7 linked regions of the Homo sapiens genome follow. The protein of the gene in region 1 purifies or fractionates together with the protein of each later gene. This does not show direct contact. Each region holds a gene or a part of one and is shown on either strand. Other genes may lie near its edges. The genes, in order: ARHGAP11B, MOB2, LSM14A, MTPN, CBS, ELMO2 and CSRP2.

The links.
Region 2: the proteins of ARHGAP11B (region 1) and MOB2 purify together in Homo sapiens (affinity purification with mass spectrometry; one large-scale study listed by BioGRID and IntAct). This does not show direct contact.
Region 3: the proteins of ARHGAP11B (region 1) and LSM14A purify together in Homo sapiens (affinity purification with mass spectrometry; one large-scale study listed by BioGRID and IntAct). This does not show direct contact.
Region 4: the proteins of ARHGAP11B (region 1) and MTPN purify together in Homo sapiens (affinity purification with mass spectrometry; one large-scale study listed by BioGRID and IntAct). This does not show direct contact.
Region 5: the proteins of ARHGAP11B (region 1) and CBS purify together in Homo sapiens (affinity purification with mass spectrometry, with the first as the bait; one large-scale study listed by BioGRID). This does not show direct contact.
Region 6: the proteins of ARHGAP11B (region 1) and ELMO2 purify together in Homo sapiens (affinity purification with mass spectrometry, with the first as the bait; one large-scale study listed by BioGRID). This does not show direct contact.
Region 7: the proteins of ARHGAP11B (region 1) and CSRP2 purify together in Homo sapiens (affinity purification with mass spectrometry; one large-scale study listed by BioGRID and IntAct). This does not show direct contact.

Annotation. Positions count from the first base shown.
Region 1 is NC_000015.10:30,624,740-30,628,927, reverse strand, and holds the start of ARHGAP11B (inactive Rho GTPase-activating protein 11B), read right to left. Parts: upstream 2,801-4,188; 5' UTR 2,108-2,800; coding exon 1,979-2,107; intron 1-1,978.
Region 2 is NC_000011.10:1,469,420-1,473,554, forward strand, and holds the end of MOB2 (MOB kinase activator 2), read right to left. Parts: intron 2,001-4,135; coding exon 1,876-2,000; intron 1,070-1,875; coding exon 753-1,069; 3' UTR 38-752; downstream 1-37. UniProt on the Homo sapiens protein: Stimulates the autophosphorylation and kinase activity of STK38 and STK38L.
Region 3 is NC_000019.10:34,224,123-34,227,399, reverse strand, and holds part of LSM14A (protein LSM14 homolog A), read right to left. Parts: exon of another isoform or gene 993-3,277; coding exon of another isoform or gene 969-992; exon of another isoform or gene 936-968; intron 36-935; coding exon 12-35; coding exon of another isoform or gene 1-11. UniProt on the Homo sapiens protein: Essential for formation of P-bodies, cytoplasmic structures that provide storage sites for translationally inactive mRNAs and protect them from degradation. Acts as a repressor of mRNA translation. May play a role in mitotic spindle assembly.
Region 4 is NC_000007.14:135,970,628-135,974,762, forward strand, and holds part of MTPN (myotrophin), read right to left. Parts: intron 1-4,135. UniProt on the Homo sapiens protein: Promotes dimerization of NF-kappa-B subunits and regulates NF-kappa-B transcription factor activity. Plays a role in the regulation of the growth of actin filaments.
Region 5 is NC_000021.9:43,055,486-43,059,192, forward strand, and holds part of CBS (cystathionine beta-synthase), read right to left. Parts: intron 3,484-3,707; coding exon 3,349-3,483; intron 2,923-3,348; exon of another isoform or gene 2,806-2,922; intron 2,769-2,805; coding exon 2,660-2,768; intron 1,403-2,659; coding exon 1,318-1,402; intron 615-1,317; coding exon of another isoform or gene 573-614; intron 1-572. UniProt on the Homo sapiens protein: Hydro-lyase catalyzing the first step of the transsulfuration pathway, where the hydroxyl group of L-serine is displaced by L-homocysteine in a beta-replacement reaction to form L-cystathionine, the precursor of L-cysteine.
Region 6 is NC_000020.11:46,396,400-46,400,534, forward strand, and holds part of ELMO2 (engulfment and cell motility protein 2), read right to left. Parts: intron 2,373-4,135; 5' UTR 2,298-2,372; intron 1,621-2,297; exon of another isoform or gene 1-1,620. UniProt on the Homo sapiens protein: Involved in cytoskeletal rearrangements required for phagocytosis of apoptotic cells and cell motility. Acts in association with DOCK1 and CRK. Was initially proposed to be required in complex with DOCK1 to activate Rac Rho small GTPases.
Region 7 is NC_000012.12:76,857,812-76,862,257, forward strand, and holds the end of CSRP2 (cysteine and glycine-rich protein 2), read right to left. Parts: intron 2,603-4,446; coding exon 2,473-2,602; intron 1,830-2,472; coding exon 1,736-1,829; intron 1,218-1,735; coding exon 1,141-1,217; 3' UTR 898-1,140; downstream 1-897.

The sequences.
Region 1 (4,188 bases):
TACTTCTGTTATATATAACTAGAATTCAGCGTGTTTTTTTCCTTAAGTCTTATTATTTAGAATAACTGGCTTCACAAGTAACCACTAAAATTTAATCTCATAAAATGTTTTTAAAACTTAAAACTACAGTTAGCTAACAAACACCAGTCGGCTAAAGAAATTGTTTTCAAACAAACTATCCCATTAGATCTCATAACACAATGATCTTCTACATTTCTTCATTAGAATATTCTTATAAGTGTTTCTAGCTGAATTTATATGGCGTGATTACCAATTAGGAGGCAGACCAATGATATGACAACTATCATTAGATGAAGTGGCATGTGACACGCACTGTGCTAGGCCTACATAAAGAGCTTCACTTTTTAAAAATCCCTAAATAATCCAAGGAGAAATACGTTCCCACTTTATAGATATAAAACTGAAGCTTAGGGAAATCAAACAAGCAGCCCAAGTTTACAGATGTAGTAGGGGTGGAACAGCACTCAAACTCAGGTCTATCCGACTCTGAAAACAGGCAACAGTTTTTCTTGTTAAGGGGTGAAAAGGACAGGTGCAGTGGCTCACGCCTGCAATCCCACCACTTTGGGAGGCCGAGGCGGGCGGATCACGAGGGCAGGAGATCGAGACCATCCTGGCTAACACAGTGAAACCCCGTCTCTACTAAAAAATACAAAAAATTAGCCAGGTGTGGTGGCGGACGCCTGTAGTTCCAGCTACTCGGGAAGCTGAGGCAGGAGAATGGCGTGAACCCGGGAGGCGGAGCTTGCAGTGAGCCAAGATCGCGCCACTGCACTCCAGCCTGGGCGACAGAGGGAGACTCCATCTCAAAAACAAAAAAAAAAAAAGGAAAAGAAAAGAAAAGGGGTGAAAAAAAGTCCATATACAAACTCTTCCATATACTTACAAAATCAGCTACATTTGAGATCTTGGAAAGCCAGTTTTACAATCAGAAAAAAATCACTGTAGCTTTTTAAATGTAAGTACATGTATTGCCATTAATTTGCTACCAACAAAAATAACTTCTCCAAAGTTTATCAGCGATTAAGAGACACACATATTACTTTTGTTAGTGGTTTTCTTCTCCAAGCACTTTTTTTTAGAAACCATAAACTATTAAAAGCAACGTATATTAACTTTATTAGCTTGTCTCCAAGTACTAGGAAGTACCATATAAATTAGGCACATAAATTTAAAATAAAATGCTTTACATTCAGCTTATTTTTCACAATGCAATTCCTGATTATGTGGCAGAGCTATTAAAATCTCATTCAAAATCCCTTTATTTCAACCACCAAAACATCAACAACTTCTCAATTATTCCACTCTGGCTTCTCAATTTACTCATACAAAAAAAAAAATTGCTGTCCCAAAAGTATGATATGGCCAAGCAGCAAATCTGTTTCCCAAATTAGTGAATATGCAGTCATCATTTGAAGCCTATTTCTAATGTTCTGTCATACTTCATCTACAGATTCATGTAGAAAATGCACTGGTCTCCCTTGTCCCTCTACAACCTTACTCTAAAACAAGGGTGGAGGGGTAGAGTTTTTGTCCCTCCCAACGTACTACCTGTTCCAAATACAGTAAGCTGGCAATATCCGGAGACATTTTTAATCGTCACAACTGAGAGATGCTACCAGCATCTAGTGGGTAAAAGACAGACATCCCGCTAAACATCCCACAATTCACAGAACAGCATTTCGTCTTCCCCTAACAAAAATTATCTAATCCAAAATGTCAATAGTGCTGAAGTTGGAAAATCCTGCAACTTTCTCTCAATGATCAAAAATCCTTGGGGAAAAAAAAAACAAGAATGTCACTTTTTAAATATCAGCAATCGATCATCTGAACTGAATTACACACCTAACCATTCTTTTTGATACACAGAGTGAACATTTTAGCACGATCTGCTAATAAGTGATGATAAAGGGTGTGCCCTTTCTTTTAAACCTAAATCCCTTTTCACAGAACTTACCCCTATTTCCGTGGCTGCTGTTTCATGTCTCCTGCGATCGCACTGCCCACGGACACCCTTCACCTTAATACCATAGAAGGCCCGCAGATGCTGCAACAGGGCCAACTTCACCAGCCTCTGATCCCACATTCCGGATACGTCGATAACTCTGAGGCAGGATGCAGGTCCTGACCCTCGTTCGCCACCAAGTCTTCCAATTTCCAAACGCTCTCAAATTTGAACTCCGCTCGGCTGCTTTCCGGCCCCGTCTGGCACTTCTGCGGCCCCGACCCCCGGCCACTTCCACGGCTTTTCCTTGATCCTCACTCACATCCACTTACACAGACCCGCTTCTCTTAGCCCTTTGATCCAGCCACACCTCACTCTTCCTTCACTTACAGCGACCTTCTTTCTGGTCACCCAATGCTTTCAGCTACTCACATAGACTTCTTTCTGATTCTTTCGGTTTCTCGCCTATTGCCAGATTCTCTCCACTTCCTGCTACTTCCAACGATCCCCCTTCCTCCAAACCTTACTGTCCGTCTGGTTCGCTCTGAAATGTGAAGAGAACCCTTCTCGCTCCTCCAGCCCCAGCAGGCTCAACTGGGCGCTCGCCCCCGCCCTAGCCTGGCCGCCGGACCAGCCGGCTGCTCAGGCAACTCTTCCAGTCCCGGTGCCCGCCCGGGCTGGTAGCCGCCGTCACCCCGTCTCACAGGCTGCTCGTTCCCTCCCCCATCAGCCTGCCTCTACCTCCCGGCCTGCACATCCCGGTGCGTTCACTGAAGCCAAGCCGTTAGCCTCATGCTTCCGCCCCCAGCTCCACTGCAGACACCCGGAGCCACCACGGGGGGGTCACACCCGCAGTTTCAGCCCAGGCTCAAATGGCAGCGCCAAACAGCGCTCCACATCTGATTGGTCCACTCCTCTTTTCAAAATCAGGACCCCGGAGGGTGGCCGAGAGCTGCCTGTCTAGATAGGTGCGGGCGAAGGGGTGTAACGGGCAAACCCAGCAAACATGAAAAGCAGGATGAGTTTCACTTGTTCCTTCAAGGCCAGTTTTTGGGGCGGGGGAATACTGTTTAAAGGTTTTTAAATACACCTGACCTGCGCCTCAGACCATTCACAGTATTTGAGGAAATGTAAGAGACAACTTATTCCCGTTCTTTTCCGAGCTCGGCTGTCGCTGAAGGCCCTCTTACGAAGAAACCGTTCTACGGAAGCCCAGTTGAGACAACTTGAGACAGGATTCAGAAACGCTGATTTTAGTAACCTTAACCCTCGGCCTTTGGTGGGAACTTCGGCTCTGTGGGAATTAGTCTTTGGGGGACTGATGGTGATGCTGAAATCTTATTGCGTAGGAAATTAAGTACAACAAAGAAGACCCGTCGTGAGAGGAGAGTGCGGAAGAAATGCGAAGTCTACGGGAGGTGGCAGCTGCAGAAGCTTGGTGTTGGATTTGGAGTTAGGAGACCGGGAGGAGCCCAGCTTCCGGTCCAGACGGTTATCTTGTTGACTTGCACGACTGCAAACGCCCTGAGCTGCTTTTGCAGTCTGAAACATCAGCGATCCCATCAAAATATTCTGTTTCTTGGGATATAAGAAACATCCCAAGGCGGGCTGTAGAGCGAGAGATTTGGACTCGATTTAAATACAGACAAAATAGTATGCATTTACTAACACCACATCTCACCCCCACGAAACTTGGTAAGGGCAGCAACAGAACTTTATCTGCCATATGCACTCCTGTATTCCTATTACCAAATAGTGCCAGGGACTAAGTGAATATTTGCCCAATGAATGAGTTTTAAGTAGGAAACGTTTGCATAGAATCATTTTGTTTCTTTTGGAGTTCAAATCTTCGGATATTTTACCCTTCCCAATCCAAAGAAAAGTCTCTGAGTGAAGAGATGGGAACAAAATGTAAGTTAAATATGTTGCTTTAACAACTGTTTATTGAACTCGTGCTATATACTGTAGAATGATGAGCAAAACCAGGCACAGTTTCGGCCCTGGAAGAGGAAAGGCAGGCATATATTTATCAAGTAAGTACATTAATGGCGGCACTTATCAGTTGAGAGAAGTGCGCTAAGGAAAGGAATATGATTCTATGATAGCGTATAATAAAAGATCCTTGACCGGGGAGGGGAAACGTACCAGTGATTAACTGATCTGAAGAATCAGTATAAATTGACTTTGTAGAAAGTATAGGTGGATGGCTGAGTGGGACCATC
Region 2 (4,135 bases), on another chromosome or scaffold:
GGGGCGGTCACCGAGACGCTGAGACGTACACAGGCTCTGACCTGAGAGAATTCTTTTTATTACGAGTGAACAGATGAACTAAGGTAAGCGGGTCTCAGCCTTCCGCTGGTGCAGCATCTCCACGCAGGGCCTCAGCCCCGTCCTGGCCTTGCCTGAGGACTGCACCATGGGTGTTCCTTGGGCATGGAGGAGGCAGCAGGAAGGGGTGACAGGAGCAGGAGCAGGTGCAGGGCACCTCACACCACAGGCCTCCCCCACCTCTGAGCTGCCAACAGCCAAGACTCCTGGCGAGGCCGGGAGAGGAGGGGTGAGAGGGAAGGAGGGTCTCTGTGAAAGCAAGCCCCACCCCCAGAGCAGAGCAGAGACCCAGGTCTGCAAATCACACCCTCCCCCCACGAGTTCCTCCTTTGAGGCCAGCAGCACCCGAGGGAGGGCAGGGGCTGCACGGAGACCAGAGAAAGGAAAACCCCACAGAAGAAAACTCAAAGCATCAGTCCCATGCGTGTCTGCTGAACGAGTGAATGGGCCCAAAGGCTCTTCTCTACAAACGGCACGCATCCATCCGACAGGGGGCCACAGGACACGGCCGGGGCCGTCTGCGTCTGTGCCTGTGCAGCCCACACCAGTGCAGCCCGGGGCCCTCTCAGACCTCACCACACGCGTGCCCAGCACATGTGTGCACACGCAGATGCAGGAGAGAACACACACCACCGTCTCTTTGCACACGTGTGCCCCTGTCCGGCCCGGGGGGCTCATCTCTCCTTCACGTGGTTCTGTGCTCCCGGGCCCCCGCTGCCGGCCCCATCCCCACTGCCCCCACTGTGGACCCCGCCGGCCCCGCTGCATAGCACCTCGGTGAGGTCGTCCATGATGGCGGTCTCTTTGGGGTCCAGCAGGTTGAACTCCCGAGCAAAGAGGATGAAGTGGACGTAGAGCGTGTTCAAGTGTCCGTGCAGCTCCAGGGCCAGCGTCTCCTTGAAGTGGGCCCAGTAGATGTGTGCCAGCACGTGGAACAGGTGTCTGCAGATCTTCCTCACCAGGGACTCAAAGGAGCTGGGGAATTCTCTGCCTGGGGAAGGCCACCGTGTCACAAGCTGCAGACATCCCTTGGCCCCAACAGAGGCCAGGCCCCTGGCACCCAGCCTGGTGGGTCTGGTACCTGCCACCCACACCTTGACCCTGCCACCCTCAGGGCCTACAAAGCCCCAGCAGCAACAGCTTCTGCCCATCAGCAGGCACCACAGGGACTTGCCAACCCCGGGTCTGGGCTGCTGAGACCTCCCTGCGTGCTCAGGCTCCGGAGGCTGCACCTGCCCTGAGGGCTGGGAGCTCGTTGGGCCATCCTGGCCACCTCCTCAGGAAGGGGCCTGTGATCGGGCACTCGGGCCCCCGTGGTGTCTCCCTGATGGACACTTGGGGCCATCTCCCGGGCCAGGACGGAGGTGGCGATGGTGGCACAGGCCTCTCCTGTTGTCCCCTGCCGTCCCTCTGGCAGCACGGGAGTGGCGTGGAGCCCCACCACATCCCACCAAAATCTGGACACAGGCTTGGCGGCTGATACCCAGCCCAAGTGCCCACAAGCTGGACGGTGAGAGCAGCATGAGCGGCAGAAACCAAGAGGGGCCCAGTGCAGCCGCATGGCCCAGAGGGCCAGGGAGATGGCCCTTGGCCCTGGCTGGGCTGACCCCTGCCCAAGGGCTCCGGCCTCACCCCACAGCCCAGGTGGCTCCATGCTAAGCAGGGACTGGGGTGGTGCAGCTGCCGCCCTCCGTGCCTCTGCCCCTCCCGGCACAGGAGCTTGGTCACTTGCAGACACGTCCTGAATGCTCCCTGCCCCACTGTGAGGATGACCGCCCAGTGCTGGGGGAGACGAACCGTATTTTGTGGGGAACACGTCCTCATCCGTCACCAGCTTCTGCACGGAGCTCATGACGAAGTCAACGTACTGTGGGGCCGTGCACTTGACCTTCTTCCCCCGCTCGTCATACCAGTAGTACTGTCTGTGGAGACAGAGACACGGTCAGGGCATGCGCCCGCTGCACACCCACCCAGCCACTGGGTCCCACCCGCTCAGGTCATCTGCGGGCAGAGGTGGCGCCAGCAGCGGAGGTGTGGCAGACCCAGGTGTCTCCCTCCCTGGACATGCACACTGTCCCCACACACTGTCTGCGGGGACCACACTGCACTCTATGGAGGGGTCTGCCTGCGCTGACTTAGAACTACGCCAGGATCACGCTGGGGAGCCTGCCAGCCACATGGCTGTACAGGTGTGTGATTAAATGAAGGGGTCATCTTCGTTTTCTCCGCTTCTACATGGCTTCAGTTGTATTCGTTTACACAAGTGCGTGCTGCTGTTTTTCTGTTGTATTTTGAAAGCACACAGAGGCTCCTTCTCTTCCCAGGAAGCTGTGCTGTGGCTCGCCGGCCAGGCCCCACCCTTTGGGAGAGCCCTGCTCTGACTGCTAGAAGCCAAGCCCCTCTCCGGGGAAAGCAGAGGAGGGCGGTGGTCTCTGTGGGTACCTGCGGCTAACAGCCTGGCCAGGACAGGGACCTGGCCCCCTCTTGCCCCTGTACACAAGGGCGGCCAGTCCTCATGTGAGACTCGTGGCCCCAGAGCAGGCTGGAGCATCCTAGGGACATGGACACCCTGGGTTTGCCTCTTACTGTTGGGTCCAGCCATGACAAGGGTGTGCTCTAGTTCATGTTAATATAAGGTGACCCCCAGCCCCTAACACCCCTCCTCCCCCAGCACAACACCAAAACCCAGGGCACCCACCTGGCAGCCACCACCCCTCTCCCCCTGCCACGGTGCTGGGTCTCAGTCCTCCAAGGCCATGCCCACAGCGGCCGCCCCCGCAGGCCTGAACCAGGGCATGCTGGGGCCGATGCCGCAGCCCCACCCACAGGCAGTGGAGAGTGCTGTGGTGGGAGTGCTCACACCTGAGACACAGCCAACACTATGGGTCGGGATTTCCTCCCTGAGAGCCAGCTCCCAGCTCACCACAGGTGGGAATGGGCCACACAGCACAGAGCAGTACTGGCCACTGAGCAAACGCCCCCTCCACACCATGGCCACAACCACCATCGCCTCCACTGCCCCAGCTAGACCAACAGGCAGTCTGCCAGTACCAGGCTCCACATGAACCGCTCCCACCCTCCTCATCCAGTCACGGTTCCTCTTGGAATGGCCCTGGGTGGGGCAGTGCTGAAAAGGATGGACCCAGGCTCCACTCTGGAGGCCACTCTTCTCTTGGCCAGCTCCAAGCATCGTGCCCTGGGTTCCAGAGCCCACCAAGGCACCTGGGGAGACGCCCCAAGGGCTGAGACAGGGCCACGGGGGGCTCGCCCACTTCCTGCGCAGCCAGAGAAGCCATCCTCCCAGCTGGGCACAGGGCCTCCAGTGTCTCCGGGCACAGGGCCTCCAGCGTCTCCGGGCACAGGGCCTCCAGCATCTCTGGGCACAGGGCCTCCAGCGTCTCTGGGCACCCCTCTGCTGTGTCCAAGAAGCCCCTCAGCCTGTGCACTGCAGATCCCGGGGGGAGTCACCAGAGTTACCAAGAAGCTAGAGGATGACACTGCAAGCCCTGCATGCTGGCACCCTGCCCTCTGCAACAGAAACAGCCATCAGGCCACCTCCCAGCACCACCAGGGCCCTAGGACAACCCCCTCCCAGCACCCACCTCCAGAATGCAAACCAGGAGCTCTCATGTGTGCCCTGTGCGGGGCTGACTCAGCCCACCCGAAGGGGAAGTGCAGCCCCAAAATGGACAGGCCATGAGGACGGGGATGCAGTGCCCACACCTGCCTCTCAGGTGCTGTCCTCCCCCTGGGACAGCTCTGCATGACCTTCACGCCCACCTTCCCAGGCTGCAGGCCTCACCGTGGGCATCGCCACCAGGCTGTCAGACCCTCTGAGAATGCAGAGACAACAGTCCTTTCAGCATCTGCTCCTCGAGAATGATGTAGAGGACGCACGTATCCCCACTGTCCTGGGGTTCCCAGATGGTGTAGGGGAGGCCCAGCCCCTAAGGGCCAGGCTGAGGCCCATGTTTCCAGGGCGAGGACCCAGCCAGGATGGCTCAGCACTCTGCAGGAGTCAGACACTGGCTCCAGGTACCCTGACACTGCAAGCTGA
Region 3 (3,277 bases), on another chromosome or scaffold:
TTGTTTGTAGACTATGCAGCAACTTTGTTGTCTTTCTAAAAAAGAAAAAAAAATTTAGCTCATGTTCCAAATTATTGGTGTATTATTTTCTTTTTACTTTGCTCAAGTTTATTTTAAATTATCTTTAAATATACTCCCCCACTTTTACTTTCATAGAAAAACCTGTCTCACTCATTTCCACGAAACTCCTTCTATAACTTCCATACTCAGTAGTACCTCATTGTTGACTGCATCTTCCAGTCAGTAGAGGTTAATGCAGTGGTGAACCCCACCCCAAAATACAGGCATACTTCCTCATCTTTGGTTGTTCTCCCTAATAATTTTTTAAAAGCAGTGATAGGACTTAAACCCTCAACTCAATAGTCAAACTCATCAAATACAACTGTCAACATACTTTGAAACAAGTTTCATAAAATCCCCAAGTCTTTGATGTCTTTACTAAGCAATAAAATACCCAGTCAGTATAACATTTCTCTCCAAAATTTCATGCCAGGAGGAAGCAATGGTTTAAAAATCAATTTTACAAGGATAACTCTTAAATCTGAAATAAGCTCTGAAAAGTAGAAAGCTGACTGGGGAATTTTTAAAAAGTAACCAGTGAGGAAGCAATAAAAATCTCAAGATTTCCAGAGAGACTGACCCTAAACTAAAGGCCTGTACAAAGGGCTGGAGCCAAGGGCTTTTATTTTCCTCTAGACCAGCTGCTACCATATACCTGGTTTTTACTGCTGATTCTCACCCCAACTGTTAGAAACAGACATTTCCTAGGTGAGACTTAACTTCATCTGTGTATACAACACCAAAACATTTGCACCCCGTTATTAAACTGAAATACATATGGTATGGCATAAGTTGACAGCAATGAGCTACAAGATGAACCTGCTGTCCCCCACAAAGCCAACCTTCACACCTCCCAAAGTATTTGTTTTTTTTACCTTTCAGAAAGCAGTACGATCAATCCAGACCTTTTAGGGTCCAAAAGCTGTGGTTTTCTGAAAGGTAAAAAAAAAAAAAAAAAAAAAAAGAGAAAGAGATGGGGACAGGAGAGGGAGAAAGGAGAAAATGAAAGGGGGAGAGGAGAGAGAGCATTATGCTGAGTCATTCAGACACCTTGTTGTCTTTGAACCCCATCTGAGGAAACACAGATGTGATTTTTATCACCCACCATGGTGGCTTAACCTCCCTGACAGCAGCATATAAAACAGGAGCTGGTTACATTATTATTGCTAGTCCTGATTTCCATTCTCACCTCAAAAAAGAATGGGCGGTGGGAGGGGGAAAACACCATACAACCAAACTTACCATAAGGTTATATTTCTTTCTTTTCTTTTTTTTTTTTGAGACAGGCCTCGCTCTGTCACCCAGGCTGGAGTGCAGTGGTGCGATCATGGCTCACTGCAGCCTTGACCTCCCAGGTTCAACTGATCCTCCTGCCTTAGCCTCCTGAGTAGCTGGGACTACAGGCATGTGCCACCACTCCAGCTAATTTTTAAACTTTTTTATAGAGATAGGGACTCCTTATGTTGCCCATGCTGTCCTTGAATTCCTGGGCTTAAGCAATCCTGCCCTGGCCTCCCAAAATGCTGGTATTACATGTGTACACCATTGCACTGGCCTATATTTACAATATTACCCTTAAGGAAAATCAGGCCACAAGTCAAGAGAGTGAGTTTTGGATTTGTTAGCTTGTACCTCAATCATGACAATTAACTTCTTGGGGTCCTTAGTTTCCTTATCATCTAATGTGAGTGTGGTAGCGTAGAGATTCTAGTTTGGCTGATTCTTTTAAGGATTCTAAAACTTTATGATTTTATCTTTACCCATGTTTTCATTAAACAACCAAGCTCATTTATGCTTACCCCCAAACCACAATGACTCATGCTAATATAGCACAAAAAATAAAGCCAACTCATTTCATGAAGGCTGCAGAAATGTCATCCATGTCCATCTCTGGGAGGAAGTGTTAGATGTTTCAGATACAAGTTTAATCTTCAGTGGTAAATCTCCTTTATGTGACAGTGATCACTCACCATTTTCTACCTTTAAAGGTGCCAGGTGAAATGATTTTATGATTTAGGAGGTGTAGGGCTGCTGGGTTCGGGGCTCTAGTGGCAGATGAAAGGATTATTCAACTCTGGAATGAACAATCAAAGGCTAGCTACATTGACAGACCTTTGGTCTCACTGAAGGCTGGAGTGGCAAATTCCTAATCAACATGACAAGCAATTACTTCAAGCCCACTATGGCTCCATGTTGAGCTGAGTGTTGTCATGGAAAGAAAAGTAGAATACATATTCACTAAAGCCAAGAGGTTCTCATCTAGCTGGTGATGCAGAACAAAACTAAATACAAAAAATAGGGAATGTCAGTGTATTTAAAATGTGTGCCAAAGAAAGCAGATAGCCACAGGTCAGAAGAGGAGGAAATCAGTGTAGGAAGGAAGAGAAGACAGAGCAAAACTTGGGCAAGGCTGTAAAGGATAAGTGAAAGGGGGGACCTGACTTTTAGCTATGTCTGTCTCCCACCAAAATGTAAACATCAAAAGGGCTGGGCCTACATCGGTCAGCACCAATGCTCAACATAGTGCCTGGCATATCTGAAGAATTCTGTATATTTGGTAAATGAATGGGGATGGAGTTGGAATCAAGCACAATGTGTATGTGAGATAACCATGAGGCAGCTTGCTTGAATCAGATAGGTTAAAGGGTAATGAGGAATGAGGCCAAATATATCAAGTGGGATCCTCACACAATTAAGAAGAGCAGGGACTACAATGTCACAACTGAGCCTCCTAAACACTGGGCCATGCCTGAGGGTTCGCTGAGTCCATCACTCCTGGCAACACCTAAGCAGAGGCTGGACTATCTGTCAAGGATACAGGAGCGTAGACAAAGATGCATGGAGGTAACTATGACAATGCATTTTCAATTCTGCAATATATGTGATACGAGTTTTACAAAAGGCTCAAAATGATAAACAGTGTGACATGGTGTCAAAAAAATGTTTGTATTAGTAACCACATGGAGCACACACAGTTACTGCATGGAAGGTTTGTTTTTTCCTTTTTTTGAGACGGAGTCTTGCTCTGTCGCCCAGGCTGGAGTACAGTGGCGTGATCTCGGCTCACTGCAACCTCTGCCTCCCAGGTTCAATGATTCTCCTGCCTCAGCCTCCCGAGTAGCTGGGATTACAGGTGTGTGCCACCACGCCCGGCTAATTTTTTTTATGTTTTTGGTAGAGACGGGGTTTCACCATGTTAGCCAGGCTGGTCTCGAAC
Region 4 (4,135 bases), on another chromosome or scaffold:
TTAAATTTTTAATTATCTGCACTAATAAAAGGAAAATGTTTAGAATCTCAAACCAAAACACTTTATATAGCCTATGTACATCTGAATGAACATTTATGTTCCAATGTAAAAAAAGATCTTCCTCTATTTTATATATTTTTTAAAATGACTAAAAGCATTAATAATTAGAAAAGAATCTATACTAATGTTTCTCTGTCTACTGAGGGCACCTGTATCTTATACAAGCTGACATATGCTTTCTGAATAGGTCACCAGCCCTTCTGTAGAAAGGGCAACACACAGTGATACATTTTTATAAGAAAGAAACTAATAATTTAAAGAAGAAAAAAAAGGGAAGCTGCCTAAAACCAATAAATGCAAAGTAGATTGAATCAGGACCTCTTTTAAATTGGCTATTTTATTAGGAAAGTGAAAAGTGATCTCAATGAGTCTTGGAATTTCTAAAGATTAGAGTTGATATCTTTCTCAGGTTCAAGAGATTCTATCCTTTCACATGGTGCACAATTGTTGCTTTTCAAACCTATTAGAGTGTCAACGGCAGATGTAATTAGAATGGAGGCTGGAGGGAAAGGAAACCACAGAGAAAGGGAAGTTAGAGACCAGGCTTCTATTTCACAGCAAGTGAAATAGAAGTACATGTAAACAAGAGAGTACATGTATCAGACCTGCTGAAGATTAAAAGGGGCTATTTATCAATGCAACTCACAAGCACTCACCTGTAAGCATGTTGGATCCTCAAAATCCACCAGAAAGCTCACCTTTTAGTAGTCTCAATGGATAATTACCATCCTGCTATGATTATTTTTACTATTTACTCAATAATATAGTACCCCCCTAGTTTCTGGCCTTATTGAGAAATGAAGGTCAAGGGTATGCTGAAGTAGTTAACAGCATGGGGCTTTTGAAACTCCTTCAGAACCCAAGGAAGTGAGTTCACATCTCAGCTTCACCACTTAAGAACTTTATGATCTTGAGCAAGTTATTTAATCTCTGCCTCTAAAATCTCTAAAATGGGGTTAACATTATTAATAATGCTCATGGCTTACTGTTGATAAGTAAATGAAATAATACCTGTATACTGCATCACAATCCTCAAATACATAAAATTTAATAAACATACTTTTTTCAAAATGTTACTTGTTTTATTTAAATAATTATGAATAGAAATCTCAATAATTTAGTTATTTTTGTTTCTTCCTAAGGCAAACAAACAAAATTTAACTTTTTCTGGACTGTGTAGGATCACAATTAGGAACATAAATTATAAGGTTAGATTATATGTGACCATAAATACAAAACATTCTGCAGGCTATCAGTCACTCTTATGGACACGTCTTGAGTAATGACAGTCTCTGATGAGAGTTTAAGTTTACAGAGATGTTTGTCTCTATACTAATTATTTCTGAATTGTTACATTTACAATTTTTAAAATACGGTTGCCATTTTTGTCTTCATTCACAGTCAGAGCTAATTAGTTGTACCGGCTTCTTACAAGCCTCTTTCTCGTTTTCTTAATTCTAAAGTGTTGTTAGCAAAAAAAAAAACCACTTTTAAAGCAAACTGATATGGTTATAAATACACACGCGCACACGCGCACGCGCGCGCACACACACACACACACACACACACACACCCCATGTAGATTCAGACAGTTCTGGGTTTAAAATCCAGTTATGCTACTTAGTTTGTGACCTTGTCAAGTTACTTCAGTTCTCTAAGCCTCAGGTTCTTCATCCTTAAAATAAGATTATTACTTATACTGAAACACTGTGGTAAGAAGCAAATAAAAACTTAGGTAAAACATCTTGCAGAGTGCTTTCCAGTACCTGACAATGTAAGTCATCCAGTCAATGGTAATTATTATTCTGTAATTAATGAAGTATGCTGAAATTATTGCTAAGTTAAGAATAAAATGAATTTCTTACCAGAAACATGATTTTAATGTGTAAAATTCCTTGGCGCTATGTTGGAGACAGAAAGATGAAAAAGAATATATTATCTACCCTCCAGGAGTTCAGAGCCTAATGAAGACACATGTAAACAAAATCACAGCAATCTGATGAGCAAAACAGTAAAAGAAGCAGCACTCTATGTGAAGTCAATCTTTTTCAGCCAGTCTCCCTCACTGCCCTTAAAATATTAATACTTTTGTGATTTCTCATTGCTTATTTTAAAAGGGCCAACTCCTCATCGGTATGGTGTTTTTCTGTTAGAGGTGATACTTACCCTAGGAGGGTAAATAGGAGTTTAACAGGTTGGGGGTTAGGGATTGAGGTGAGCAGACTTGGTCAGGGAGGATGAAAGAACACATGTAAAGATCTACAAGGAAGAAACAGGATGGCAGGGTCTGGAGCAGAGTGCTTAGAGAGAGGCAAGTGTAGAAAAGCAAGCCCAGATAATAGTGGCCTAGTACACCATACCAATGAGGAGCTGGCCCTTTTAAAATAAGCAGTGAGAAATCACAAAAGTATTAATATTTTAAGGGCAGTGCAGGAGACTGGCTGAAAAAGATTACATGCTTATATTCATGTTATTGAGAGATCCCTCCACCTAAACTGTGTAAACTGACCAGGAAGGGGTCAATTTTTGCTGCTTCTTTCCAGCCTGGACTATATATTCTTTCTTGACTATTTTCTTATAGTCAAGAAAGAAAATATAGTCCAGGCTGGAAAGAAGCAGCAACTGATCTAAAGTAGTAAGAAGAAAGGAGAGTGAGGAATGGATGAGGGAGACTAAGAAGGTAGTCTTGGTAACCCTCAGAAATCTAGGAAAATTTCCCAGTTTCCAGTTTGGACAAATGGTTGGGTCATGATACCATTAGTGAAAATGGAGACACAATAGGAATAAAAACAGTTTTTGAGAGGAAAACAGCTCAATTTGGAATTTGTCTGAACAGAGCTTATGCAGTCTGAAATTCAGGTGAGGCTAGAATTAACTCCAACAGGAGAACATAAAGGCAGAAATGTAAGACAAAGTCAAAAATAATGTCACCCAAAAGAAACATCCAGATCAAAAATGGGGCTATGAATATCTCTTATAGCTGCTCATGAATACCTTATTTTCTGGCTTTCACTTGTTTTCCAGCCGGACAACTGAATTTTATGAAAATGAGATGTTATTTATAATTTGCATACTACTATAAAAGTATGAATTTTTTTTCACGCAGGTCTGCTAAATATAGATGCTTACGTTTCCTGAAAACTGTGTCGAACTTCTGTACTATCATCCCAGGACTACTAAAGAGTTTAAGACCTGAAAGATGCCTAGTAAAAATGAATGAATTAACTAAATGTGGTCCTTAAGTCAGTCAAGAAGCCAAATGTAGTGTTGAAAGACTTTAAAATTGCTTCAGATATTGTCTTAAAGTTATACATGAAACATTTAATGTAATAATCTAAATTTTTCTCTAAATAATCTAAATTTTTCTCTCAATACTGTCTTTTCCATTTCAAAATACAATTTTCAGTGGTTTGGGGACTGTGAACTGACTTTTCTAAGTTCAAGAACTCACCTAAAACCAATGATTTAGGGATACTCACACTTCGAACTTTAATAGAGAAGTCAGAGGCAGGTAGAAAAGTGTAATTACTGACTTTTAAAAATACTAATTTATAAAGGAAAAACGGGTTCACACCTGTGAACCAGTGCTTTCACACCTGTAATCCCAGTGCTTTGGGAGGCCGAGGCCAGAAGATCGCTTGAGGCTAGGAGTTTGAGACCAGCCTGTACAACAAAGTGAGATCCAGTCTCTACAAAAAATAAAATTTGCTGGGTGTCGTGGTGTACATCTATGGTCCCAGCTGCTCAGGAGGCTGAAGTTACAGTGAGCTATGATCACGACACTGCACTCTAGCCTGGGCGACAAAGCAAAGACCCTGTCTCCGAAAAACAAAAACAAAAAAACCCTGTTTCCAAAAAAAAGAGGAGGAGGAGGGGAATACTAAAATGCTTATCTTACTCTTACAGGTAGATTCTTAGGTTAACAATATGAGAGATCTTCACAGGAATGTTGAGGAGAGTTTTTAAAATAGACTCTCACCCCTGAGAATGAAGACTAGACAGGTCTAAGTGTTTCTTTAGTATTTTCTTTGTACACACCTACTCAGATAGATGCACATTACAGAAACTCAAAAAG
Region 5 (3,707 bases), on another chromosome or scaffold:
CGTCCCAACTCCGCCACGGCTGTCACTCCTCTCTTTGTAGGCAGAGGTCCCTTGGGGTGGCCCACTTAGAGCCCCAGGAAAAGATAGGGAACACAGATGAGATCAGCTCCTTGCATTTTGGGGAAACGGAGGCACAGCAACTGTTGGAGAAGGGAGCCCTGGGAGCCCTGAGTGCCGCAGGCTTCTGTGGCCCTGGCAGCTCGGCCCAGAGTCAATGGACTAGGGCCAGCCAGGGGACTTTCCGACAAGGGCCAGCTGGTGGTATTTTAGGTCTTGGGGGCCGTGCCGTCTCTGTTATGAGCACGCAGCCCTGACGTGCTTGAAAGCAGCCACAGACGGTGGTGACAAGCGTGGACATGCTCCAGGAAGACTTGATTTGGGGACCCTGACATTGGAATTTGCATCTTTTTTTTTTTCTGAGATGTTCAAACACAAGTAAATGTGAGATTAAGAGGGGGATCCCTCCTACCCAAGCTTGGGGGTGGGTCCAGGACCCTGGAAGGCCTCCATTTGCCATGGGGAGGCTGTGAATCTGAGCCTGAGAGCCATTCTGAGGGGTGGGTGATACCTACCTGCAGGCCCCCCCACCACGCCTGCCCAGGCCTGGTCCTGCGCTGCAGAGCCAAGGACGGGAGATGGGGTTAGACTTGGGGCCCTCACGGACCAGCCTCAGCCACCGAGCGCTCACCCCCTGCACACAGGCCTGGTGGGTGGGCAGGCTCCAGGCTCCAGGGCCCCTCCCAACTCTTCCTGTGGGCCCCAGGCCCAGGGCTGCCATCTATGACCCAAAACCTGCGAGCGACTCTCCTGGCCTGTGGGGATGTGGTGGGGACGCCCGGGGATGCGCTCAGGAGTTGCAAAACCTCATGAGCTTGCTGGGAGCGGGGCTCTGAGGACAGCCCATCAGTGGCTCCTGTGAGACCCACATGAGGCTTCCATTCAGAGCAGCCCTCCGAATGCCAGGGTCAGGACTTGAAACCCTTCTAGATGTTTCTGGGCTTGTCCCTGAGAATCCCCAAGACTGCTGGCCTCCCCGGAGGCAAGGGGCCTGGACTCCTGAGCCTCTGCATGCTGGACAAAGGGCCCTACCCAGTGTGGCCTGATGAGGGGTCCCTGCAGGAATCACAGGTACAGCCCACCAGCCCAGGGCATGTGGGAGGCCCAGGCATAAAGACTGGGTGTCACTGAAGGTCGGCACCACCCACTCCCCTAACACCCCGCAGGGGATGGGGGGCCCAGCTGCTGCCCATGGCAGAGGCCAGGCTTGGTGGCCTGACCCCAGTGAGAACCCCACGCACAGAGCAGGGCCCCACTCACACTGGATCTGCTCGTGCACCACCAGGGCGAAGTGGTCCATCTCCAGGATGTGCGAGAGCCTGCCCAGCGTGTCCGTGAGGCGGATCTGCAAGGGAAGCGTGGTCAGTGGCAGGGGGAACATGGCCCCACGAGTTTTCTGTGGAGTGAGAGGGGATGCGATGGTGGGTCCTGCAAAGCCCACCCGGGAGGCAGTGGCAGCCGAACGTGGGAAATACGTGGATTCGGGTGACGTCTCGGGTGTGTGTGTGAGATGGGAAAGAAGTCGAATTCACTCCTAGGTTTGGGCAGAACCCTCAGCCTTTCCAGTGTCAAGAGCCACACCTGCATGTCCCAGGGGATCCGTGTGGAAGGTCACACAAACTTTCCTGGGCCACCCTCAGGGCAGCAGAGGGTGGGTGTCTCAGGACAACCACGGAGTCTGACCAGCCCGGCAAGGAGCCACCGTGGGCTTCTCCCAGAATGTTCTAGCTCTTGTTGGATAACCAAGTGCATGCACAGGCAAATGAGGCTGGGCAGGAGAAAGACCCCGGCAGACGCCGCATGGTGCCCGGGACAGCCTCTGAGCGCGAATGACCTCCTTAAGTCCCCAAAACACGGCTGGTGTGGATGAGCCTGCACTGATGAGAGCCTGCTCTCCGGCTGCTGCACTTGTAAAGTGGGTGCTTCTCAGCTTCATGGTTTGAGGGGTGCAGCCAGCTTCGGCCTAAGTGGTGTTGAGGGTCGAGGACCCAGCACCCCCACACGGGAAGCGCGGTGTCCCGCCTTCGAGGCTGGAGTACTCTGGCACCCTCTGGGGTCCCGAAGTGCCTGAGTACCTGTTTGAGCCGCGTGTAGGTGACTGCGCACCTGTTTGAACTGCGTGTAGGTGACCGCGCACCTGTTTGAGCTGCCTGTAGCTGACCGGGCACCTGTTTGAGCTGCCTGTAGGTGACCGCGCACCTGTTTGAGCTGCCTGTAGGTGACTGGGCACCCGTTTGAGCTGCCTGTAGGTGACCGCGCACCCGTTTGAGCTGCCTGTAGGTGACCGGGCACCCGTTTGAGCTGCCTGTAGGTGACCGGGCACCCGTTTGAGCTGCCTGTAGGTGACTGGGCACCCGTTTGAGCTGCCTGTAGGTGACCGCGCACCCGCTTGAGCTGCCTGTAGCTGACCGCGCACCTGTTTGAGCTGCCTGTAGGTGACCGGGTACCTGTTTGAGCTGCCTGTAGGTGACCGCTCACCTGTTTGAGCTGCCTGTAGGTGACCGCGCACCTGTTTGAGCTGCGTGTAGGTGACCGGGCACCTGTTTGAGCTGCCTGTAGGTGACTGCGCATCTGTTTGAGCTGCCTGTAGGTGACTGGGTACCTGTTTGAACTGCTTGTAGATGACTTTGCCAACTTGGTCTGACGGCTGCACCTTCCCGGCAAGCAGGGACGAGAGCATGTTCCCAAGCGTCACCATTCCCAGGATTACCCTGTGGGACGGGGGCAGGCAGGGGTCAGCGCTCATACCTCACCCCTCCCAGGACGGTGGGGCACACGCTCAGCTGCCCCAGGGAGGAGCGCTCTCTGGCCACACATGGAAGTCCTCTGCCACGAGCCTACACGCGGCAGGAACCAGTCTGGGCCCTGGTGGGGAGAAAGAAACCAAGAGTCCTTGGACCCGTTCAGCCAGGGTCAAGGGTGACCAGCCGTCAGGTTTCCGCGACGTGGGGCTCTCAGTGGTCACTGGGCATGTGTGCCAAGGCTTTCTGCTGTCAGACATGTCCTCGGGGCATCTCTCCCCTGACCTCCAGGTGGGCCCAGGACAGCCTGCACACAAAGGGTGGGTGGGCTGAGGTCTGAGGGCCTGGAGTGAGCACGGCAGCCCTGCCCCAGGCTGCTCAGGGACCGGCAAGGGGCCTCCAATGCCCTGAACGTCTGTATGAGGCGGCCCAGGCGGGCCTATCAGCCCAGCTGCAGGGTCTGCATGGCTGCCCTGTCCAGTGACACTGACGGGGTGGAGCTGGGCAGACAGAACCCAGGACTGAGCTCTGAGCAGGGGCTGAGACTGACCCCGCCTCATCCACCACGGGCGCCTGGTCGAAGCCCTTCTCCCGGAGGATCTCGATGGTGTGCCCACAGGTGATGGTCGGGAGCACGGTCAGCGGGGCTGACAGGCCCAGCTCCTGAACACGGAGGTGCCACCACCTGAGGGAAGAGGGCAGGTCGGGGGGATCAGGATAAGGACAAACGCTCTCGCACCCCCGCCGGCAGCACCTCAGCAGGAGGCCACAGGGACCGCTCTCCTGCCTGTCACACTGGGCAGGGCCAGCACAGGCCACGGGGACCGCTCTCCTGCCTGTCACACTGGGCAGGGCCAGCACAGGCCACGGGGGAGTGCTCTCCTGCCTGTCACACTGGGCAGGGCCAGC
Region 6 (4,135 bases), on another chromosome or scaffold:
GGGTACATATGTTTGTATATATAAATATACATCATATAAATATACACATGCATCTCCCTGTAACCAGCACTCAAAACGAGACACTGAACATTTTCATCACCCTAGAAAATTACTTCATACTTCCTCTTCCCGTCAATCCTTCCAGTCCTTTAAAGGGGAATTTCTGACTTATCATCATCCATGAGTTTTGCCTGGTTTTGTACTTCATATAAATGGAACTATACGATATGACTTTTTAGATCATTTGTTTAGTTTGGCTTCTTCTTATTTTTAAAATAAGCAGGCACAGAAGGTACAACAGAAAGAACACTGGGCTGGGATAATTGTCCCTGCTGAAACAAGTGACTGGATTTAGAACCAAAGGCCTCAGGACCCAATCCTAGGTCTTTCACAATGTATACATGGCCCTTTAACCAAATCTCAGTTTTCTTCTATTGAAAGATGTGAGTGTAGAACTAAAGCATGTCTCAGGTGCCTTCTAAGTCTAAAAGTCCATGATTCTTAAGTGGAATTTAAAAAATCCAAGTGAGGATGCCCATTTTAAAGTCCTTACCAAATGAAGTTACACCCTTCCTTAATTTCGATGGTGCTGCTAAGAAACAAACCCCATGATTTTTAACTCCTTTCTGAACGCCGTCTTTGGAGATTAAGCTAAAGCTCATTAGGTTATAGCTATTATTTTCTCTTGACCCCATATGACATATCCTAGATTGACTCTCTCTTTATTAAAGTTAGCCCTGAATGATTCTCGGCTGTTCAAAAATTCGTATACATTTTAAAGCATGGAGATTTGCAACCACCAAACTATTTGAAAGATATTAATAAGCCCCCATTCTCAGTGACTCTGTCCTTCCCACAAAGCCCAGGCAGCCTCTCTGAACTGAATGACACTCTCCACAACCCTGCCATAGCTGATGGGACTAAAGTGAATACCCAACTTTAGCTGAACTATTCCAGTTCTTTCTCTTGAATTTAAAAGACAGAGACTGGCTGGGCGTGGTGGCTCATGTCTATAATCGCAGCACTTTGGGAGGCCAAGGTGGGTGGATCGCCTGAGGTCAGGAGTTTGAGACCACCCTGGCCAACATGGCAAAACCCCGTCTCTAGTAAAAATACAAAAAGTAGCCAGGCATGATGGTGGGCGCCTGTAATCCCAACTACTCGGGAGACTGAGGCAGGGAGGACAGCTTGAACCCAGGAGGCGGAGGTTTCAGTGAGCACAGATTGCACCATTACGCTCCAGCCTGGGCGACGGAATGAGACTCCATCATAAATAAATACACACATACATACATACAAACAAATAAAAGACACAGACTAAGGGAACTGGGTGATAATGACCCTGGAGAAGTAAGATCATAGTAAGCTTCAGAGCGAATACCATGGCAAGCCAAAGATCCGTACGAGCCAAAGATATGGAGAATAAAAAACCAAGAGCCTTTCAGAGGAAGTGATTCTGCAGGAGGAATCCATAAATATCTAAATGAACTGAGGCCAGAAATCAGAAAGAGATGGAAAAGCCATTACCTGCTAACTTTCCAGATTATGTGGCTATTACTTCCTATGCTCGGGGTACCTGAAAGTCCACTGTATCCTGCCAATAAAACTCCTATAAATTAAGCTAGTCTATGTTTCTACTCATTGCAACTAATACGCCTAAGACCACAGCTGCCCCCAAGCTCTGCAGGAACTCTAAAACGGAGGTCTGAGCAGACAGCAGCATCACTAGCATATGATGATGGTACTGGGTAAGCACTTAATTAACAATGGCTGAATTAATGAGAGCAAAACCCATGGGTTTGCTCTTACCCACTAGATAAGTCTGATTTGTTTGAAACAGATCGGTTATATGGTAACTTCATAGTAATCATATATCTAGTAGTAACGTACAGGTAGCCTCTTTATTTTTATTTTTTTAAATTTTTTTTAAAAGATGGAGTCTTGCTCTTGTCGCCTAGGCTGAAGTGCAATGGCATGATTTCAGCTCACTTCAACCTCTGTCTCCTGGGTTCAAGCGATTCTCCTGCCTCAGCTTCCTGAGTAGCTGGAATTACAGATACTCACCACCACGCCCAGCTAATTTTTGTATTTTTAGTAGAGACGGGGTTTCACCATGTTGGCCAGGCTGGTCTTGAACTCCTGACCTCAGGTGATCCATCTGCCTCGGCCTCTCAAAGTGCTGGGATTACAGGCGTGAGCCACTGTGCCCAGCCCAGGTAGCCTCTTTATAGTTGATTGCTCACTTCTATATCATTATTATAGTTGATGCTCATAAGAACTCTGAAAAACATTCCTACCTTACAGGTAAGGCAACTGAAGTTCAGACGGATTGACAAACTTGTTCTCCATGTACCTCTTTCTACACCTCCCTCCTAAAAGAAGGAAGGAAAGAAAAAAAATGAAGGGAGGGAAAAGAAATAAAACTAAATCAACCCAACACATCAGAACTGGGTCTCAAGCCTAGGTCTTAGGACTCCAAAGCGAGTTCTCATCGCTCTATATAATACTTCCTTAGATGATGACATTAGCTAGCAATTACATAATGCTAAGGCACTATTTTAAGGGCTTTACATATATTAATTCATTTAATCCACACAGCAATGCTGTGTGGTATGTTATTATCCCCACCTTAGAGATAAGAAAATGGAGGCACAGAGGAGTTAAGTAGAAGGCTCAGTGTCACATAGCTAGCAAGTGGCACAGCCAGAATTTGATACCAGGTTGTCTGGTGTTGCTGGAAAGCCATGAGAAAGCAGGTGGCTCTGCACCTGACCCGCAGCAGGTGCTTTGTGGAGATTTCTGGTTTGTGTATCTGAAACCAAAGCACACTGAGGCTAAGAAACCTTCACAGCAAGAACTCACCATTGTAACAGAAGACAGCTCTCCACTGTCTACAGGTGGGCCACACTCCCTCGTGTGCTATTTGGTCCTTTACAATCTAGCCATCCTGGACTACGGGCTATTTCTATAAGGCAGGCCATGTTCTTTCAATTCTTCTGTACCTTTGCACATTCTCTTCCTCCTACTGACTGTCAGAAGAGCTCCTATTCAAGCATCAGAGCCTAGTTCGGATGTTACCTCCTCCTTGTACTAGTCTTAGCTTTCTCTACTTTCCCTGGCAAAAGTAAATAGGACAGGGGCCTCTGTGTTCTCACAGCATCCTGTTCATACTTCCGTTAATGAGTACGATTTTGTCATACTCTATTACAGTTACATATTTACACATCTCCACTAGCTCCTCCTCCAGAACAGGTATAACTCTGCAGTCTCATAACCTAGCACAGCACTTGGTGTCCAGTGAAGGCTCAGTAAGCACCTGTGTCTGCTTAAACCCAATGGCTCTGATTTCTTCCACTCCTGTGAACCAGGCTGGCTCCAAACAGACAGGGACAGGCATGAACTGTGCAGGCTGTCTGGTGTTCCCTCTGCGTCCCAATACCCTCTAACTACACAGTATTTCCATTGTTTAACAGTTTGTTTTGGCTGGGCGCAGTGGCTCACACCTGTAATCCCAATGCTTTGGGAGGTCAAGGCAGGAGGATCACTTCAGGCCAGGAGTTCGAGACATTTCTCTACAAAAAATAAAAATTAGCTGGGCATGGTGGCGTGTGCCTGTAGTCCCTAGCTACTCAGGAGGCTGAGGCAGGAGAGTTGCTTGAGCCCAGGAGTTCGAGGCTGCAGTGAACTATGATCATGTCACTGAACTCTAGCCTGGGTGACAAAGTGAGATCCTGTCTCTATTAAAAAATAAAAATAAAATAAAAAACTGTTGTTTTCATATCAAACATTAGAATAAGTCTTACTGAAAAATCAGGGTTAGCACCCCTAACTCTAGTTGAAAGAAAGAGGAAAACCTCCCTCTGCTTTTCTCCCTATCGAAAAGAAACATCAGGAGATAGGAGACTAGAAATAATTCTGTTCTCCAGATAATATTCCCAGGATAAAGGATCTCCTTATAGGGAACCCTTCCAGCACGTGTTTGCTTACTCCCTTCATTTTCATTCTAGAAAGGAAGTAGAAATTAGGTCAAAGGAATTCAGTAACATTGCAAAATTCTCAGGGTTATAAATAGCCTCTTGCTCCGCCACTCAGCAGTACTGTAGCTCAATTGCAAACCACCAGCATAAGGGAGCTG
Region 7 (4,446 bases), on another chromosome or scaffold:
GAGGGAGTTGGATTGAATCTCTAGTAAAGAACTAAACTTTCTGGGGGAATAATGAAACCATACCTTATAAAGTCTAATGCTCCTCTTCTACCTAAGCCAGCTGAATGTGCCCAGACAATGCAACATTCTTTGCTACTTATACAGAATCAAAATGTGTGAAACACCCCAGTTTCCAGGACTTAGTAGGTCACCATCTATTAGATCACAGTGTAGAGTCTTTAAAAAGAATCATACTAAGTCTCTGATTCTATAATTGCCCATAGGTGTTTGTTTGTACTGAATTTTAGGTATAATCAAAAGAACTTACTTAAGAGTACGGTGGGGAGGGAAAGGAGGAGATGCTGCACTGCTGAACACCAGCTTTGAGGAGCTGAAATAATGATGCCTGTTGCCTAGCAACCTTTTTTTTTTTTTTTTTTTTTTTTTTTTGAGACGGAGTCTCGCTCTGTTGCCCAGGCTGGAGTGCAATGGCACGATCTCGGCTCACTGCAAGCTCCACCTCCCGGGTTCACGCCATTCTCCTGCCTCAGCCTCCCGAGTAGCTGGGACTACAGACGCCCGCCACTACGCCTGGCTAATTTTTTTGTAGTTTTAGTAGAGACGGTGTTTCACCGTGTTAGCCAGGATGGTCTCGATCTCCTGACCTCGTGATCTGCCCATCTCGGCCTCCCAAAGTGCTGGGATTACAGGCGTAAGCTACCGCGCCCGGCCTGCAACCTTTACTCTTAAGGCACACTTGCCTGCTTGAAAGAGAGATCCTTTTCAACAGCTGTAATGCAAACATGAACCTAGTGAGTCAGCTGGGTAATGGGGTAACAAAGGTAGGGAACCAAATGACTTTCCACTAACTGAAATCAGAGCATCTCCTCCAAAAGATTAATTAAAAGACAATGAACACCCAAATCAAGCTGAAGTTTTATTTAAAATGTAAAAGAAATGTTCCCCCAAAATGCTGGTGAATAAAGCAAAAGGATACCATACAGTGCTCTCTTCCTACGAGTTAGCCAGCCTATCCAAGTACAGGGCGATATACAGTACTTAATGCTGGTAGAATTTCACAGTAGTTTAGTGTTAAAGATTATCTGTGCCTAGATTATGAAGAGATTCTCAGTGTGTGATGTTTAGTTCAGGGTTTACATCTTACTGGGCATGAACAAGAGCCCCTGCTCCTTGGCCATAGCCAAATCCCTTGGGCCCAAAGTTCTTTGCATAGCATCCTACAAAGGAAAGGGAGGAAGGATAGTTAGTGCAAGTCCATTAAGCTTTGCTAGCACTGCTTAAGACCCACTCAACAAACCCCCATAAATTAAACTGCTGTGTAAAAGAGCTCAACTTATTTAAGATGTTAAATGTGTCATGTACTAAATATCTTAAAGCTGCAAAGACAAGTCCACACATTCTGGCCCTATAGTGTTCAGCGTGGTCCTGCTGAGTTGCAAGCATGAGTCAGGCCAGGTAAGGTATGTATTTGTCTGTTTTCTTCCATATACTTACGCTTTGCTCAAGACATGAAGGCAAAAGATGGCTATTTGTGGTGTTTTTATCTGGTGGGGAGTTTTAAATGATCAGGAACTTAACTGTGGTTCTCTGTCATCTATAAGCATCTTGGGATATTTTATTTTCAGAAAATAGTGGCATACTTTTCTTTTTTTTTTTTTAATGCCAGTGACATTTCATTAAACAAGAACCAGTGTGGAATATTCATATGGACAGCAGTAACTGAAATGAATTTTACCTTTACAATAGATTTCACCTTCTTTTTCAGTCAGAGTTGTTGATTCAAGACTCTTCCCACACTTTGCACATCGGAAACAGTTTTTGTGCCAGGGCTGGAAGAGATGAATGTGTCAGCATGTTTGAGAGGCCTGTTTCCTACAGTTCAATTTAGATGTATGGCAAGAAGTGGCTCAGGATGATCATCTCAAAGCAAGCTCCTGACTTCTGTGGTTCAGCTCCAATGAGAAGGCTGAAACCAGTCCTCAGTATCTGCACTCTTGATCACCCACAGAAAGGCTGTTTCCCTAAGAGCAGCCTCAGTCCTAACCACAAGCCCAGTCTGCTCCTTTAAAGAGACCATCTTTTTTCTGGCCAAGAACAGCGCAGCTCAAAGAGGTTAGCTGGTAACTTTTCCAAATCCACACACTGAATTCGCATCAGGTGTCCTGACTCGGATTCCTGCTTTTTTCACTATACTGAATAACCTGGAGATTCCCTTACAGTCTGGCCTTTTAAAGTTTAACCTTCAGGAGTGCCCCCTATGAAAACAAGTTCTTTTAAACAGAAAAATGACTTGTCAAATAAGGGAATCACTTCAAAAAAGTTAATGATTCTGATGGAAATGCATTTAAAGAAAAGTTTCATATAAGACAGTGATTTGTAAGACATCACCCAAGCAAGGAATGTGGAAGGGTTAGGGGAGAAAGGGAGCAGAGAGAAGTCATTTGCTGTTATTAATTCCAAATAGCACTTTACCTTTCCAGCTCCAATTATCTTCTCGGCAGCATATACAGAATCCCCACATCTGGAACACTTCTCAGCACCTCCATATTTCTGAGCAAATTTAGAAGTGTTTGGATTTGTTGTAGGCCTGTGAGGCTGAACACTTGTGAAAAGAGGAAAAAAAAAGTAGGCAAGAGTTTCCACAGGGCCCTTTTAAGTACACAAGGCAGGAACAATAGAACTCTGGGACTTAACCGCTACACTGCCTCAAAGCTGGAAGCCTTTGCAGGCCAGCACAGGGGAGGGAATAAAGAAGAAGTGACTCAGGTGCCAGCCAGAGTTACTACTTGAACCTATCTATGGGCTCATTATTATTTCAAAAAACCAGATAGGGACCCAAACGTAAAGATCTGTCCCTCTGAGTCTAAACAGAATTCATTTACTCCTCAGTGTTGGCCTCTCCACTAAGCAATTATGTTACGGTTTATAAAAACTTACCAGAGCATATATTTTTACTCCAGAATAATATCACTGGAATCATACCTAGCTTTTTACTTCACAGGAGTCGGAAAAACCACTATTAAGTAGTTTAAAAATTCCACAAATAGGTAAGTTAACTTTGGTCTGTAACTAAGAAATTTAAGCATGTTTTATAGATTACTTAGTCTCCCAGTATATCTTGAATAAAGGAAAGTGTGAATAGCCAACTTTCTTCATGGAAAAATATTTTATAAATTTTGATTATTACTATGCAATCTGTTTATCTTTCATTTTTCTCTGGTAAGGGTGGTATTTTTGTCACTATTTACAGATCACTGAGTAAACCATATTTCTTGCTATCAGTAGGAACTGTTTCCATTCAGTAAGGTGTACCTAGTATGTGCAGAACATTCTCGGGCTTTGAGAAGACTTTTTTTTTTTTAAGCCCTCTTAGAACCTTATAAATTAGCTGAGCAGATAAAATGATAGCACTCCACAACTGTTAATTTTTCCTACTGGAAAAACAATGTCTTCCTAGCACTTTGGGAGGCCAATGTGGAAGGATAACTTGAACTCAGGAGTTCGAGGCCAGCCTAGGCAACATAGCAAGACCCTGTCTATATATATATATATATATTTTTTTTTTTTTTTAAAAAAAGGAGGGTTCACTGGTCTTTGTGCTTTAAAACTATGGCCATAGTCACTGACTTACTTTTGGGGTCATGGATAAATCTGGTTTGGATTGAGGGAGATGCAGGTTGAGTGAGGGGATATGGATTTTGAAAGGTTTTCAACAAAACCTTTAAAACACAAAAATAGATGTAACAAGATGGAAAAGGAGAGCAGAACAAGTAAAATAAATTTTAACAAAGATAAAAAGGTAAGCTGGGCATCATGGCCCAGAAACTCTGAGGGTGGAAGAAGCTCAAAGAACACAGAGGTGAGCCTCAATGTAGTACATACTGCAGTAGGAAGAGAACAGATTTTGGAACCAAATGGACATTGATTCAAATCCTGGCTCCCTCACTTATTTGTGTGACCCGACTCTTAGTGTCGTCATCTATAAATGGACAAAGTATACCTCAGAGTTACTCTAAGGATTATACAGAATGAAGATAAATGTTCAACAGACAACAGGGACTCAATACATGGTAATTATTATTTTAGCCAAGCCAAGCACCACGTTTCATTCAGGTCATAAGGTTTGGAGTTAGACTAGGTTAAGTTCCAGGCTCTACAATTAACTAACAGTGTGACTTTGGGCAAAGTTTTTACTTAATTTTTCTTGTCTTCATCTGTTCTGAAGAAAGAGAGGAAGCCCTATGTTGTAGGACTGTTGTGAGGATTACACGAGTTAACATATGCTAATGCTGCACGGTGGCTGGCATGGTTTATGGTCTTGTCCAAAGGCCATTTTGTTGGACTATTACACCAATTTTGGACTTCTCAATATAAAATGGATGTGAAAATGTGAAGTTCAAATAGTGGAATCACTGGGTTAAAAGTAGGAGTTAGGAGGAAATTCCA